2 separate regions of the Homo sapiens genome follow, and region 1 is linked to region 2. The links come from fine-mapping of genetic effects on gene expression. Tissue or cell type: whole blood. Region 2 holds a variant in brackets; the other region holds the start of a gene. All regions are shown on one strand. Distances are between the middles of the regions.

Evidence for each region. PIP is the estimated chance that this variant, and not a neighbour inherited with it, causes the effect.
Region 1: TNK2 starts here. The variant in region 2 is fine-mapped to the expression of TNK2 in whole blood (TOPMed, PIP above 0.99).

The regions. Positions count from the first base shown.
Region 1 is chr3:195,904,381-195,912,550 of GRCh38, forward strand. TNK2 (tyrosine kinase non receptor 2) reads right to left here and starts at 4,171. Exons shown (of 16, transcript NM_001382273.1): 1 at 4,105-4,171. It overlaps TNK2-AS1 (TNK2 antisense RNA 1), which reads left to right and starts at 3,696. Exons shown (of 2, transcript NR_145450.1): 1 at 3,696-4,398; 2 at 5,485-8,170. RefSeq lists enhancers at 2,385-2,434, 2,485-2,714, 5,705-5,754 and silencers at 4,385-4,634, 4,685-4,874, 4,925-5,574.
Region 2 is chr3:195,858,281-195,866,422 of GRCh38, forward strand. TNK2 (tyrosine kinase non receptor 2) reads right to left here. Exons shown (of 16, transcript NM_001382273.1): 16 at 5,084-5,907. The coding sequence ends at 5,901. It overlaps LINC01983 (long intergenic non-protein coding RNA 1983), which reads right to left and starts at 2,124. Exons shown (of 2, transcript NR_134939.1): 1 at 1,993-2,124. RefSeq lists enhancers at 1,511-2,035, 2,036-2,558. The variant A/G (reference allele first, on the strand shown) is at 4,619.

The DNA of each region.
Region 1 (8,170 bases), 46 kb after region 2:
CAATGTAAATGAACCTTGAATACGCTAGGCCGAGGTGAAATAAGCCAGGCACAAAAGCACAAACACTGTAAAATTCTACTTCTATGAGGCACCTACAGGAGCCAAATTCATAGAGTCAGAAGGTAAAATGGTGGTTCTCAGGGGCTGAGAGAGGAGGGAATGGGAAGTTACTGTTTAATAGGTGCGGTTTCAGTTTCACAAGATGAGAAAAGTCCTGGAGATGGATGCTGGTGACGGCTGTGCAACAGTATGAATGTATTTACCACCACTGCAGATGGTTACAATGGCAGTATATTATGTATATTTTACCACAATTAAAAGTTTTTAAAAATAAAAAACCAATACTACCAGGAAAAACCAGTATCATTTACAATAGCATAAAAATAGGTACTATTTAAGGATATGTTCAATAAAAGATGGAAAAGACTGATATACCAAAAACTACAAAACACTGCTGAGAGATAGTAAACAAAACCTAGACAAATACAGAGATATACACTGTTCATGGTCAGAAGGCTCAATACTGCTAACCGATCAATTCTCCCCAAATTGATCATAATCCCAATCAAAATCCCAGCAGGCTTTTTTGTAGAAATTGACTAACTAATTCTAAAATGTATATGGAAGTGCAAAGAACCCAGAATAGCTAAAGCAATTTTGAAAAGACAAAACCAAGTTTGAGATCTTACCCTGATTTCAAGACTTACTATAGTTTATAAACCCACAGTAATCAAGATAGTGTGATACTGGGATAAAGACAGACAAATAGATCAATGGAACAAAACAGAATCCAGAATTAGACACACACAAACAATTGATTTTTTTCTTTTTCTTTTTGAGATGGAGTCTCACACTGTCGCCCGGGCTGGAATGCAGTGGCGCAATCTTGGCTCACTGCAACCTCCGCCTCCCGGGTTCATGCGATTCTCCTGACTCAGCCTCCTGAGTAGCTGGGATTACAGGTGCCCGCCACCACGCCTGGCTAATTTTTTGTATTTTTAGTAGAGACAGGGTTCCACTACGTTCACCAGCTTGGCCTTGAACTCCTGACCTCATGATCCGCCCGCCTCAGCCTCCCAAAGCACTGGGATTAGAGGAGTGAGCCACCGTGCCCAGCCAGCAATTGATTTTTGACAAAGATTCAAAGGCAATTCAGTGGAGAGATACATCTTTTTAATAAATGGTGCTACTAGATCAATTAGATCTCTACATGCAAAAAACTGGACATTGATTCATACCTTGCACCACGTAACAAAAATTAACCCCAAACGAATCCTAGATCTCAATGTAAAGCCCAAAACTATAAAATGTCTACAAGAAAATACAGGGGAAAACTGTTGGGACTTTGGGTCAGGCAAAGATTTCTTGGACATGACACCAAAAATGCAATCCACAAAGTAACAAATTAGTAAATTAATCAAAATTTACAACTTCTCTTCAAAAACACAGCATTTTGCACTACTGATCATGAGAATTTTTTAGAAGACATTGTTAAGAGGATCAAAATACAAAGCCACAAGCTGGAAAAAAGATTTGTAAATCACATACCTGATAAAAGGCTTATATCCAGAATATATCAAGAACTCTTCAGAACTCAACACGAAAAACCCTACACAATTAAAAATGGGCAAACGATCTGAACAGACACAGCACCAAAGACATACGTATGGCAAATGAGCACATGAGAAGATGCCCGACAACATGAGTCATTAAGGAAATACAAATTAAAATTGTAATGAGATACCACTACAGACATGAGAGTGTCTAAAATTAGAGACTGACCACATCGAGATGTGGACATATCAAAGACATGGACAAACCAGAACTCTCATACACAGTGGATGAGTATATAAAATGTACAACCACTTTGGAAAACAGTCTGGCAGTTTCTTAAAGGTTAAATGTGTACCTACCACATGACCCAGCCATTCCGGTCCTAGGGATTTACCTAAGATAAATAAAAGTGTACATCCACACAAAGACTAACAAACACGTTCACAGCAGCTTTCTCTGAAAACCCATCAACAGGTCAATGGATAAACAGACTTTGGCACACGTGTACAATGACTGTTGATACGCGCAACCACCTGGACAAACTCCAAAATACTTCTGTTGAATGAAAGACGCGATTCCGTTTACAGTAAATGCTGCAAACTCAGACACAGTGACAGAAAGTAGACCAGCCTGTTACCTGGGGTAGGGGATGGCAGAGGAGCGGGGGATGGAGGGGTTCCACAAGAAAACTTCTGGGGACAGGGGAATAAGGGGGATGTTCACTATCTTGAAGGTGGGGGTGGTTTCACGGGTATATACACAGGCCACAACTTATTAAATTGTGTGTTTTAAATATGCTCAGTTTACCATATGTCATTATATCTCAATAAAACTGTTATTTAAAACAAACAAAAAGAAACACTGCATCTTCTAGACGAAGCACAAGGTGGGGGCTAATCCCGGGCTCAGGGGCCAGAGGGAACAGTCTGACCCTTCCTCCCTAACATCTGCCGGGGCTCCGGGGAGGTGGGCACCAGGCTCCAAAGGGCCTGAGGTTTCTTTACTCACGACACTGCAGGGGAAGTCCTGGCCCACCGCAGACACCAAGAAACTGAAACCTAAAGACATTATGTTGCCCAAGGAAGTTACACAGCTTGTAAGCGATATAACCAGATCAAAAGCAATCTGTGTGATGCCAAGGCCTTTCTCCCATTCATCTACCACAAGTTCAAAAACGCCGACCTGAAATAAGTAGGTGAAGATTGTGTGTATGTGTTTAAAACAGACCGTTCTCTCCACTGAAGCCAGACAGTGAGAGCCACTCTGGCCATTCCAGAAGCGTCAGGCACCGTGGGCACAGCAGCTGAACTTCCGGTGCATGAGTGTTTGGGTGGCAGCGCGACAGGCATGGGATGAAGCTGACAGGCGGGTTTGAGTTTGTCTGAGGAGCGGGCTAACCGGCTCCTCCAGCAGCTGCTACCTCCAGCACCACTCCCTCTGCCCCCAGAGGAGAGCACCCAGTCTGGTTCGGGACAGGGGTCTGGGTCCATCTGACTCACAGCCACACCTCGGGCTGGGGCAGAGGAGGGTCCTCTAGCTAAGGCCCTGGGCAAGCAGCAACCCTGCACCCATCCCCACCCAGGGGCAGGGGAAGCAAGCACCTGACAGTGCCAGGTAAGAGGCGAACAGCTCTAGGAGAGTAAGGCCCACAAGCAGCCCGCCAAGCCCCCTGGGGGCACGAGGCGGAATGAGTAGGTCTGGCACTCAGGCCACGAGGGAGTCAACAAGCCAAATACAGCCCCCACCCTTGGCCCCTACAAGCCCTACCTCTAGACTGGGCTGGGAGCTCCTGTCCTGACAGGTGCAGAGCCCATGATACCACAGCGGCCCATCTGCAAACCTCCCCAGGGTGGGGCCACAGAGGCAGCCCAGAGCCCTGGGGTGCAAGTGCACCCTCCTCTCCCGCCCCTCTAACGCTGGGTCGTCCCACCCAGAGACGAGAGGGCTCACCAGTTGCTCTCCCTCCTTCCGCCCACTAATCATCCTTGGCTCTGGGCCCTCAGGGTAAATCAGCTGTGACAGGACGGCGTGGCAGAAGCGGGCCAGGCTCGTGCCGTACCCAAGCCACTAGCTGTCACACTCATCTCAGCTCACGTGACCAACAGGGTTACAAGATAAGGTTCTGTTAATCCCACGCTGCCCTCTTCCCTTCTGTGGGACGTGTTTTGAGGACTTGTGTGTTGACTGCACCATGCAGAGCATATAGCATGGAGGCACCCCTACTGCCATCGGGGGGCAGGTGGAGGGGGGACCGTCCTGCAGCTCCTCCCTGGGGCTACCCCTCTCTTCCCTCTGCACAGACCTGGCAGCCACCCAGACGTCCCGCCTGCTGCCTAGACTCTAAGAAGATGCCCTATCACTCCAATTACCATACACAGTACTGGCGGGGGAGAGGTCCTGCCTTGCCGCTGAAAACTGCACTGCTTCCTCCCTCCAGGGATGAAAGGCCAAAAGAACGAGGGCAGTGTGGAGTCTACGCTCTCGCCAGGGACCTGCAGCCTCTCACTTCCAAGCACACCAACTCCAGCTAACAGGACTGGGCTTCCTTACCTGCCGCCTTCCGCTGCCTCCCCGCAGACACAGCTTCAGCGACGCCCAGGCTGAGACGGCAGAAGAGGTTCCCGCCGGCCGCGGCCTGCCCTCAGGCAGTGGCTCCCAGAGCTCAGCGGTTCCCCGCACTCTTCTGCGCCCGACTCCCCATGCCCCTACATCCTGCGTCCCCTTCAGCCCCGGAGGTACCGTGGGGCCCGGGCCTGCCAGTCACCACCTCCTCCTCCGCCGGCGCCTCCGGGTCCTGAGCCCCTCGCCGGGTCCCTCTCCCTCCTGGGGCTCCTTCCCGTTCAGGTAGGTTTCCTGGACAGCCCGCACCACCTGTCCCTCCTGCACCCCGGGCAGCCAATTCGCCTCTTGCACCCCCAGGCGCCCCTCCCCCGCAGGCCCCCGGGGCCCCACCGGCCGGGCCCTCCCCACCAGCTCGGGGCGGCTTCGGGGCGCCGGGGCCGCTCCCAGGACCACCGCCTCCCGCCCGACGCTCTCCCACTGCCGCTCCCCCAGTTCGCCGGAACTTTCCGGCCCCTCCCTGCGCTCGCGGGGGCCTTCCCCGGACTCGGACGCCGGTTCGGGCTGCTGCAGCAGCCTCCGCGGGCTCCCCTCCCCGCGCTCCTGCACCCCGGCCCGGGCCTCGCCGCGCTCCTGCACTGCGGGGCTGCCTCCGCCCTTCTCCTGGTGCTGCCCGCGGGGCCCCAGCCCCTCCTCCTGCGCCACAGGCCAGCCCGCCGAGCCCGTCCACCACGGCGGGCGCCCCCAGCCCGCGCCGTCCGGCGGCCCCCACACCACCCCCCGGCTGGGCTCGTGGCCGCGGCCGCCGCGCTCCTGCAGCCCCGGGCCCACCCCGCCCTCCTCCTGCACCGCCGGGCCCACCCCGCCCCGCTCCTCCACGCCGAGCTTCAGCCCGCGGAGCTGCTGCGGGCCCCAGCTGAGAACCCCTACGCGCTGCGGCTGCTGCTCCGGCAGCGCAGGGCTCAGCCCGCCGCGCTCCTCCTGCGCGACCCGCCGGGGGCCCCCGACCGGCTCGGCCCAGCGCACTCGCTTGCCCCCCAGAGGCCGCGCGCTCCCACCCCTCCAGATGGTGCTGCCCTCGGCGCCCGCTCACACCGCCCGCCCGCCCCGGCCCTCCCCTCCCGCCCCGGGCCGCCCCCGAGTCCCGCGCCCGCCTCCCCGCCCTCGCCTCCGGGCGTCAACGTCGGCCCGCCGGGCGCCCGCCCCGCGCCGGCCCCCGCAGGTGAGCGCCCGCCCGCCGTCCCTCCTGCCGAGCGCCCCGAGCCCGCCTGCGCCTGCGCCTGCGCCGCCCCGGGGTGGGGGGTGGGGGGGAGTCGGCCCGCCCTCTTAAAGGGCCCGGCCTCATCGCTCCTCCCCCGGCTCCTCCCCCAGCCTCCGGGGCCCTACCCCGCTCTCCCCGACTCCCCCGGGCCCGGCCTGCGCCTTCCTGCGGTGCCGAGGAGCGGTGGCGCCCTGGGTGAAGAAGTCCCGCCGAGTCGAGGGGCGCAATGGAGGAGCGCCGGAACAGGTCTCTCATTCCGAGTAGCTACCGTTGCACTGTGCGAGTGTAAAAGTCACTTCCACCCGGTCTCAGTTGTTCCAACCTCAGTTGAAGTGAGGAGGTTGGACTGGAAGGTTTCTGGGGTCACTCCAGTGAGGCTGGGGTTCTAGTCCCAATCTCACCGTGGCACCCCAAAGGCCCAGAAACCCGGACCATCACCTCTCTTTCCCCGGGGCCAACGGAGCACTCCTGAAGGAGGGAGGGTTTGTCTCAGGCCTGACGATTCCTGATGAGGACTTGGGCAGAAACAGCCCCAGGCAAGCGGACCTTCATTCCTGCACTTGAGCCGTCTCCTCCCTGCCCCCACCCCAGAAGGAGAAAACCCAGCGCTCGGATTCCCAGCGGCGGGGCAGCCTGCAGGCCCTGTTCCCAGCCCACAGACCCATGTCCCAGCCCAAACGGAGGCAGCCCTGGGCAGCGGGCGCGTGGAGCCCAAGGGCTCAGGGCCACTCAGCCCTTGTTACTGTCCCTCATCTAGAAAATGGATGTAATAACAAAACAGTTCACGGTAGGTGGCAAGATCAGACACATCGGAAACTGTGTAGGGCTGGCTCTTTCTGCGCTCACACTGTCCAGCAATGGGCCCCAGGGACTTGGCCAGAGCGCAGTAGGGCAATGAGAAAGGGGTGGCTTCTGGAAACCTACACGAGGCCCAGTCTGGGTGGATTTGGGTGGCGGTCCCTTGCCTGCGAGGTGGGCAGGGCAACTTTCTACTAAATTATCTAACACTGCCAGTAATGGCAGCCCTTCCCCAGGGAGCCAGGAGGCTGGGCCAGGACCACCCCCCTGTCGCCTGGCTTCAGGAAAGAAAGTGGGGAAGACAACAGATTTGGGAGAAGGAAACTGAGGAGGTTTTCTCCCAGTCTCCCTCACGCTGCCTCAGTCATGGCCATTGCTAAGACTCACAGAGCCCAACTGTGCAAGGCCCTGCACTTCGCATTCTTCTCATCCAACCCCATGACAACCCAAGGAGACACATAATATCCCCATTTTACACGTGGCAGAACTGAGGTTCTACATGGCCAAGTGACTTGTTCAGTGCCATACAGCTGGTAGTAGTGAAGCCAGGATTCAAATCCAGCTTTCCGACTCTAAAGTCTAAGGCACAGACCGAGTGTGGTGACTCATGCCTGTAATCACAGCACTTTGGAGGCTGAGGAGGGCAAATCATTTGAGCTCCCAAGTTCAGGACCAGCCTGGGCAACACGGCAAAACCCTGTCTCTACAAAAAAAATAGAAAAATTAGCAGAGCATGGTGGCACGCACCTGTAATCCCAGCTACTCGGGAGGCCGAGGGGGGAGGATCGCTTGAGCCTGGGAGGTGGAGGTTGCACTGAGTAGAGACCACACCACTGCACTCCTGCCTGGGCAATAGAGCCAGACCTTGCCTCAAAAAAAAAAAAAATCTGAGGCACAAAAAAGCAACGCCAAATCCAGGGGCCCTGCTTCAGGAAGCATCAGGACTAACTAGATTTTATTGGTCAATAGATGCAAACAACTGATTTAGAGCAAACTTCCCCTCCAGTAAATCAAGCTCCAAATCAAACAAAGCTAGAGGTCAAAGCGCCTCCACGCTGGTTGGTCCTGCTCCTAGGGCAGCACAGCCCCCCATTTCCCCAGCCCCCCATCTCTCCAGTTTCCCTCAAGAAGCCAGAGCCATGCCCCATATGCACCTCTAGTGTAGGATTATCTGGAGCTTTAGGTTCAAAGGAAAGAGTGAGGTCTCCTGCTCCCTTCCTCCCTCCCACCCTGTTCCTCACCAACTCCTGGACGGTCCCTGCCATGCGGTTGAGAACTGGGGCTATGCTGGGATGTGTCCGTGACACTGATCATGGTGGCCAGAGAGACACCGAGGGAGACTGCTCTGCCACTAGGGAGCTGACATGAGGAAGGAGCCCCAGACTAAAAACATAAGTCTCAGGAGATTTGGGAGGTGGCCACAGGGATAACCCCAACCCTCTAATTAACGTGCCTGAGCCAGTCTCCTCCTACATCTGGAACTTTAGGAGAGCTGCCCACAGCAGAATGACTCGGCAAGGAGAAGGGCTTGTCGGGTCTAGCTGGGAGTGGAGGTGGGCCAGGCTGCCAGAGGGAGGCTTTGGGTGGTGCCCTTAAGAGTCTCCTTCATGAGCTGTTTTGCACTGTGAGGTAAGCAAGAGGGCAAGGAAGGCCATTGCTGGGGAATGGGCCGCCTGGCTCACACCTGCAGGCAGCTGCTAAGCCAAGAGTGGGTGGGTGCTGCTGAGGGATTGGGCTTCTAGTTTGTTTGTTTTTATTTTTTTATTTTTTTGAGATGGAGTTTCGTGCTTGTTGCCCAGGCTGGAGTGCAGTGGTGCAATCTCGGCTCACCGCAACCTCTGCCTCCCGGGTTCAAGCGATTCTCCGGCCTCAGCCTCCCTAATAGTTGGGATTACAGGCACCCGCCACCACGCCCAGCTAATTTTTTGTATTTTTAGTAGAGACGGGGTTTCGTCCTGTTACCCAGGCTGGTTTTGAACTCCTGGCCTCAAGCAATCC
Region 2 (8,142 bases):
CTCTACAGAAAAAAGAAAAAAAAGAACAAAACTATGTGGGTATAGTGGCGCCTGCCTGTAGTTCTCACAGCTTGGGAGGCTGAGGTGGGAGGATCCCTTGGGCCTGGAGGATCAAGGTACGGTGAGCCGAGCTGAGCTGGAGCCACTGCACTCCAGCCTGGGAGACAGAGGGACACCTTGTCTCTAAATAAATGAACAGTTACAAGATAAAAAACATTAACAAAATGTGTTAACTGGAGTTTATCCACAGAATAAAAACTAGGTAGTGTTTAAATATTCTTTGAGAAGATGAATTTAAAGATACAGAAAACTGGCCAGGCACAGTGGCTCATGCCTATAATCCCCGCACTTTGGGAGGCTGAGGCGGGAGGATTGTTTGAGTCCAGAAATTCGAGACCAGCCTGGGCAACATAGTGAGACCTCGTCTCTACTAAAAATAAAAAAATAAAAAAATTAGCCAGGTGTGGTGGGGCACGCCGGTCACCCCAGCTGCTTGGGAGGCTTAAGTGGGACGATCGCTTGAGTCCAGGAATTCCAGGCCACCCTGAACCATGATCATGCCACGGCACTCATCCTGGGTGACAGAGAGTGACCTTGATTCAAACAAAAAACCAAATAAAATAAAGATAAAAATAAACCTTAAGGAAACCCTGCATGCTGGATGACCTTATTTTATAAAACCGTAATACACATATATGTGCACAAAAAAAAGTGGAATATATCAAAATTTTAAGTGGCTTTCTGGGTCTTTAATTTTCTCACTGCGCTCTTCTGAATGGTCCAAGTCAACAAAGAGCATGTATAACAATCATAAAAACATTTTTTTTTAATACAGTGGAACTGAGGCTTCCCAAATGGAGTGACGTGATGCGAGGACTTCTGCTGGAGAGTGACTGCCCGCTCTCCCAGCCCTCAGCTTCCCTCCAGCTAGCCCAGAGCCGCAGGTTTCTGGCCCAGGTGCAGGCGTGGTGTTTTTCAGAGCCCTCCACCCGTCTCCTTTCCTGACCTTAGATACTGGCTGGTCCCCGTTTGGCTCCAGATGGCGGGCGACCCAGTTCCTTCCCCTCCCAGCTTCCCTGGGCTGACTCCCTTTAAGCACCCATGGGCTTGAGCCAGCAGATTTGGAATTAATTGATTTATTGGGCAATGAATACACAATCTCATCCCTCCCACTCTGAAATTTAGCCAGAGGGCCTGCAATGCCACATTTTGCCAACAGGTGGTGCTGCCTAACACGAAAGCTCTCTGGCCCCGGGTCCTCAAGATGGACTTCGGGGATCATTAAAATAGCAGTCATTGGTGAGGGGCATCCTGACAGGGCACGGGGGACACAGTTACCGCCTAACACCACCACCACCACTACGCAACAACAGCCATTTCAGTACCAAGAACTCAGGAAGACACATCCAAATAAAGACCGTCCTTGAAACGGAATCTCTTTCATTTTAAGAAAAGCTCGGTCCTGCAGTTCTTATCATTTCACCTCAGGTGGCTGAAAACTTAACTCTAGACCGGCAGCGGCCCTGGACTGGCCTTCAAGAACCCTTGCTCTCGACAAAGACTCCAGCAGTTGGAGGTTCCTCCAACCTCCAAATGCAGTTTCTGTACAAATGAACTTGCTTCCAATTAAGGAAACCTTTTGTCCGCAGGGAGAGACGCACTAGGCCTTTCCTCCTTTTGTGGCTGCAGTGGAGCCGCCAGCCGCTTTCAAGCAGCCCCATCCTGAGCACCCAGATGCAACCCCACTACCCCTCTGGCTATTCCTGATGTCTTCCTTTGTCTACAAAGTCAAAAGAACTCAGCATTCCACACCAGCAGCCTCATGATCCAGGCCTGCCTCACGCGCCAGGATCACGAGAGCCGCCTCTAACCCACCCCCAAAACAACAAAAGGATGCGCTCTGGCCTTGCCAACTTCAGTGCCTGGGACAAGCCGGCTCGTGCCCGCCGCCTCGGCTGCAGGGCCCTCCACCTGCAGCGCTTTCGTCCCTACCTGGCGTTCACCGTTCTCACCCATCACATCAGCACAACGTGACCTTGTGGGGAGCCACCTCCTCTGCTCCCAAGACACCTGGTGCGTAACGATTACAGAGCACCCGTCCTGCCGTGATGCTGTCACAGTCCCCCAAAGGCTGTGGACCCATCTGGGGCACGGACTGTTTCTACTTGGCTTGTGTTTCCTCATCAGGGCTCCACACACAAAAAGCACCCGACACCTCCCCACTGAGTTGATTCTCCCTGTTGTTGATTCTGCCTGTTGTTGATTCTGCCTGTTGTTGATTCTCCCTGTTGTCGATTCTCCCTGTTGTTGATTCTCCGTTGTTGATTCTCCCTGTTGTTGATTCTGCCTGTTGTTGATTCTGCCTGTTGGCAAACACACCTGGGTCAGCGTTTCAACTTCCCAACTTAAGATCTTTTCAGTAAACCCAGGAGATGCTGGAAAAGCTGGCAGGCCGATTAGAAGCAAGAAAAACATAGCAGGAAACCCAGGGTTTAGGGAACTGTGTGTCTGGCAGGAAAAGTACACTGGGTTCCCTGCTCCCCTGAGAAACCTCGAGCTGCTTTGACATCCTCTGCCCCCTGCAAAAATCTTTCTGGATGTGTTGGCTCTGAAACAGATTTTTAAATGCTTGTAAAGCATACACACATCTGGATTGCTTACAAAAAATTGATGTGTTTTTTAAAATGAAGTAAAAACACCTATGATCTATAAATAGGATAATTGTGAGCAAAAGAATAAACTTTCTGAAACAGAAGGAAAATGAGAAAAGTAAAACACAATTCTATGCGCAGAGTGTGGTCAGTGTATAATGTGAGCTATTGATTAATAGAAACAGGCAGGAACACGGGGAAATAACATTTATAATAACTACTGTTTGGTGGGAACTGACTGTGGCCCATACTCTAAGCAAAATGTTTCACCTTCACAACCTCAGTCAGTCCTCACAACCCTTCTATAAGGCAGGAATTACTCCATCAGTTTACAGACTCAGAAAGGTGAAATAACATTTCTAAGACGAAACAGAGCTAGGAATGAAATCCAGGTCTAACAGCAATGCTCAACACTCACTTAATATGAACTTGTTCTGGCTGGATGCGGTGGCTCACGCCTGTAATCCCAGCACTTTGGGAGGCCGAGGCGGGCGGATCATGAGGTCAGGAGTTCAAGACCAGGCTGACCAGTATGGTGAAACCCCATCTCTACTAAAAATCCAAAAATTAAAAATCCAAAAATTAGTCGGGTGTGGTGGTGTGCGCCTGTGGTCCCAGCTACTCAGGTGGCGGAGGCAGGAGAATCACTTGAACCCAGGAGGCAGAGGTTGCAGTGAGCCGAGATTGCACCACTGCACTCTAGCCTGGGCAACAGAGCAAGATGCCGTCTCAAAAAAAAAAAAAAAAAAAAAAACTTGTTCCCTTTTGTGATATATTTGACTAGGTATTTTAAATCACAGTTAAAATAATAGAATTCCTGCCTTTGCAAACGGCATATGCAAAGCTCCCAGGCCTCAGAACTTCTGAGCCTCGGGGCCTACCCACGAAGGCCAGCCTACAGCCAGACACACACGTGGCCCAGACTCACCCTGAATGGCCTCTGTTTTGTTTTCAATAAACCCGAGTCATTAAGCTTACTTTCTTATGATTTACCTCTTTTCCTAAAGTTCACATGATCATATGTGAAGCTCAAAGAGCTAGTTTCCTTGATTGATCCAGTAATTTCCTGGAAAGCAGTAAGAAACCGATGAATAATCTAACATTTTGTAATGGGCCAAGGATATTAATAGGCAACTCATTAAAAAGGAAATACAAATGGCTCAACTTATTTTTGAGTTTATTCGTAAGAGAAATGCATATTAAAACTATAGAAACACTATTTTCTACCAGTCAGTCTGCCAAAGATCAGAAAACTCCTTAACACATGGAAAGCTCCCTTGCACAGGTGGTGTGACAACTGAGAATGTCCCTCCGCTGAGAGCAGGTTCAGCACCACCCACCGCCATGGCACACGCCCTTTGACCTAGCAGTCCCACTGCTGGGAACTCATCTTCAGATTGACGTGCGAGTGAAAAACAGCCCACATACACAATTTACTGAGGCAATGGTTGTAATTGCGAAGGACTGGATGCAACTAAAATTGCCCTTCATCAAAAGGAACCCAGTTAAGTAGGTTATGGTACACCCGTGCATCCACGCAACCCGAAAGAATGGGGAAGCCCAGCCGGGCGCGGTGGCTCATGCCTATAATCCTAGCACTTCGGGAGGCTGAGGCAGGCGGATCACCTGAGGTCAAGAGTTTGAGACCAGCCTGGCCAACATGGAGAAACCCCATCTCTACTAAAAATACAAAAATTGGCTGGGTGTGGTGGCACGTGCCTGTAATCCCAGCTACTCAGAGGCTGAGGCAGGAGAATTGCTTGAACCTGGGAGGCAGAGGTTGCAGTGAGCAGAGATCGCACCACTGTACTCCAGCCTGGGCAACAAGAGCAAAACTGTCTCAAAAAAAAAAAAAAAAAAAAGAATGGGGAAGCACGTTCAGTATTGCTATGGAATTCTTCAAAATATTATTAAGTAAAAACAAAAACAAGCACTACACAAGAAACTGGTGATACAGGCGTCTCTGC[A/G]CTGGGGAAGTGGACGGCCGCGGTGGGTGATACCCAGTCATTTCACTGTACACTCCTCAGTGCCTTTTCAATTTTGAACCGTATGAACATGAGTTATTCAGAAAAGCAATTAAAATACCTAACATATTGAAGGGTTCCTTGTTGCTAACATTTCTGGCTTGGTTCTATTTAACTGGGTTGCTGTACTCTCTCCTGCAGTATATATCCTGCCTTACAGAAGTCCACGCGGCAAGTGAAATCCAGGCAGTGTGAAAGTCACTGACCAGACCGGCGGGGACTCTGGCCCCGCTGCCGGCCGTGTAAGGGAAGAGGCCTCCCGGTGTCCAGGCCTGCGCGCCCTCCCGCTGCCTCCAGGTGGTGCTACAAGGCCTGCTGCCCGGAGCAGATGCTGGTGGCCTGGGGAGCCTCGCTTGGGGCCTGGAGCTTGCTGACTAACAGGCAAAGAAACAGGCAGGCACAAGTAAGTAACATAAAATAGAAACTAACTTTATTTCTCTGGAAGAAGCAGGTACTGAATGCCGGAGCAGCAACTTCGCCAACAGGCTGGTGGGAAAACATGGAACCGCGTGGGGGAATTGGGTGGAAGAGGAAGCACTGATGTCCCTCCAGGGCGGCTGCCCCTTGGTCTCCTTCCAGCCCTGGGGCCTTGGGCCCTGGTCCCCGCCAGAGAATGGTCTGGCACCCTTTCTCCGCTTCCTGAGCCACCTCAGGCTATTTCCAGGCACAAGATCCTGAGGCCAGCCAAGTCCCATTCAAGTCCATGGTAAGGCCACAAGTCACATTCTGCCCGACACCCCAGCTGCTGCCAGGGGCCCCCTGGAAGAAGGCCCAGTCCTAGGAGGTCCCACCGGGTGCCGGTCCGCCTCTCCCTGTGGCCAACACATCCCGCCTGCCCAGGTCCAGCCTGGTTTCCTCCCAGTCTGTCACCCAGGGCAGGGCCTGGGGGTACTACTCCACCCACAGGCCCCGCCCAGGACCAGGGCCAGAGGCAGGTCATACCCAGAGCCTGCTGGGGCAGCCCTCAAGCCTGTCTTCACCCGGCCCCTTCCACATCTTGGCAGGGGCACCGGGACTGAACCAAAGTGTGCAGGGACAGCGCTGGTGCAGGAGGGATGGGCAGGGCAGGGCTCCCAGCCTCCCGCAGCCTTGGCCTTGCTCCATCCCCGGGAGCAGCAGGAGCAGCGGGTCCTCCAGGACTGGATGGGGGCATCTCCCCACTCCTGGTGGACGGACAGGCTCAGGTGATTCCTTCAGGCAGGCCCTCTGGCTCTCCAGACGCATCTCAGCGCCTAGAGAATGGGAAACCACCAGCACAGTTAAACAGTTTACAGAAGGTTCAGCGGGGCAGGCACCGGGGGTCACACTGGTGCCAGGCAACACCACTGGAAGCTGGCAGTCCCCGGCAAGGACTGTAAAATTTATCATCCTGGATGTCTTTTCTCTGTACTTTAATAAACTATGAGTAAACTAACAGAAGAGCACTCCTGCGTATTAGAGAATCCGAAGACGACAGGTGGGATAGAGCCCAAAGCCTATGTGGATGCAAATCAGTAAGAACCACCCGAGACAGCGACAGACAGGTGACACGGAGTGCCTGCATCCCAGCTGCAAATCAGTAAGAACCACCCCAGACAGCGACAGACAGGTGACACGGAGTGCCTGCATCCTAGATGCAAATCAGTAAGAACCACCCGAGACAGTGACAGACAGGTGACACGGAGTGCCTGCATCCCAGATGCAAATCAGTAAGAACCACCTGAGACAGTGACAGACAGGTGACAGCGAGTGCCTGCGTCCCAGATGCAAATCAGTAAGAACCACCCGAGACAGTGACAGACAGGTGACAGCGAGTGCCTGCGTCCCAGGTGCAAATCAGTAAGAACCACCCGAGACAGTGACAGACAGGTGACACGGAGTGCCTGCGTCCCAGGTGCAAATCAGTAAGAAACACCCGAGACAGTGACAGACAGGTGACAGCAAGTGCCTGCGTCCCGGGTGCAAATCAGTAAGAACCACCCGAGACAGCGACAGACAGGTGACACGGAGTGCCTGCATCCCAGATGCAAATCAGTAAGAACCACCCGAGACAGCGACAGACAGGTGACAGCGAGTGCCTGCGTCCCGGGTGCAAATCAGTAAGAACCACCCGAGACAGTGACAGACAGGTGACACGGAGTGCCTGCGTCCCAGGTGCAAATCAGTAAGAACCACCCGAGACAGTGACAGACAGGTGACAGCGAGTGCCTGCGTCCCAGATGCAAATCAGTAAGAACCACCCGAGACAGTGACAGACAGGTGACAGCGAGTGCCTGCGTCCCAGATGCAAATCAGTAAGAACCACCCGAGACAGTGACAGACAGGTGACAGCGAGTGCCTGCGTCCCAGGTGCAAATCAGTAAGAACCACCCGAGACAGTGACAGACAGGTGACAGCGAGTGCCTGCGTCCCGGGTGCAAATCAGTAAGAACCACCCGAGACAGTGACAGACAGGTGACACAGAGTGCCTGCGTCCCGGGTGCAAATCAGTTAAGAATGACCCGAGACAGGATGGGACAGACAGGTGACACCGAGTGCCTGCATCCCAGGTGCAAATCAGTAAGAACCACCCGAGACTGGGACAGACAAGTGACACGGAGTGCCTGCATCCCAGGTGCAAATCAGTAAGAACCACCCGAGACAGTGACAGACAGGTGACAGCGAATGCCTGCGTCCCAGGTGCAAATCAGTAAGAACCACCCGAGACAATGACAGACAGGTGACACAGAGTGCCTGCGTCCCAGGTGCAAATCAGTTAAGAACGACCCGAGACAGTATGGGACAGACAGGTGACAGGGAGTGCCTGCATCCCAGCTGCAAATCAGTAAGAACCACCCGAGACAGTATGGGACAGACAGGTGACACGGAGTGCCTGCATCCTGGCGCCAGGCGTGCTGGGCGCAATAAGACAGACATGTCCCCCATCCATCGCGCCAGTCCCTTCCACGGGGTGAGCACTATTATCTACACGCTTTATATGTGGAGAAACTCCGCACCGTGCACAGGGCCACGCTGCTGGGACAAGGGCAGCAGGTATCTCCAGGGCCTGGCCCGTGTCAGCCCCTCCTCCCGCCAGTGCCTCCTGCCATGGTGCTGGCTCCAGCCATGTGACCTCAGTTCACTTCTTTTTGACTTGACAGCGCTCTCATATATATATTTACATAATATATAAAGTGTGTTTATATATGTATATATTTTAAATGTCTATATATTTTGTTAAACTATAATATAAACCTTTTACAGGAAAGACAATATATTTTCTTTTTAGAGAAAATTTTTTTTTTTGGAGACAGTCTCCCTCTGTCGCCCAGGATGGAGTGCAGTGGTGCAATCTCAGCTCACAGCAACCTCCGCCTCCCAGGTTGAAGCGATTCTCCTGCCTCAGCCTCCCCAGCAGGTGGGATTACAGGTGCCCACCACCATACCCGGTTAATTTTTGTATTTTTAGTAGAGACCTGGTCTCGCCATGTTGGCCAGGCTGGTCTCGA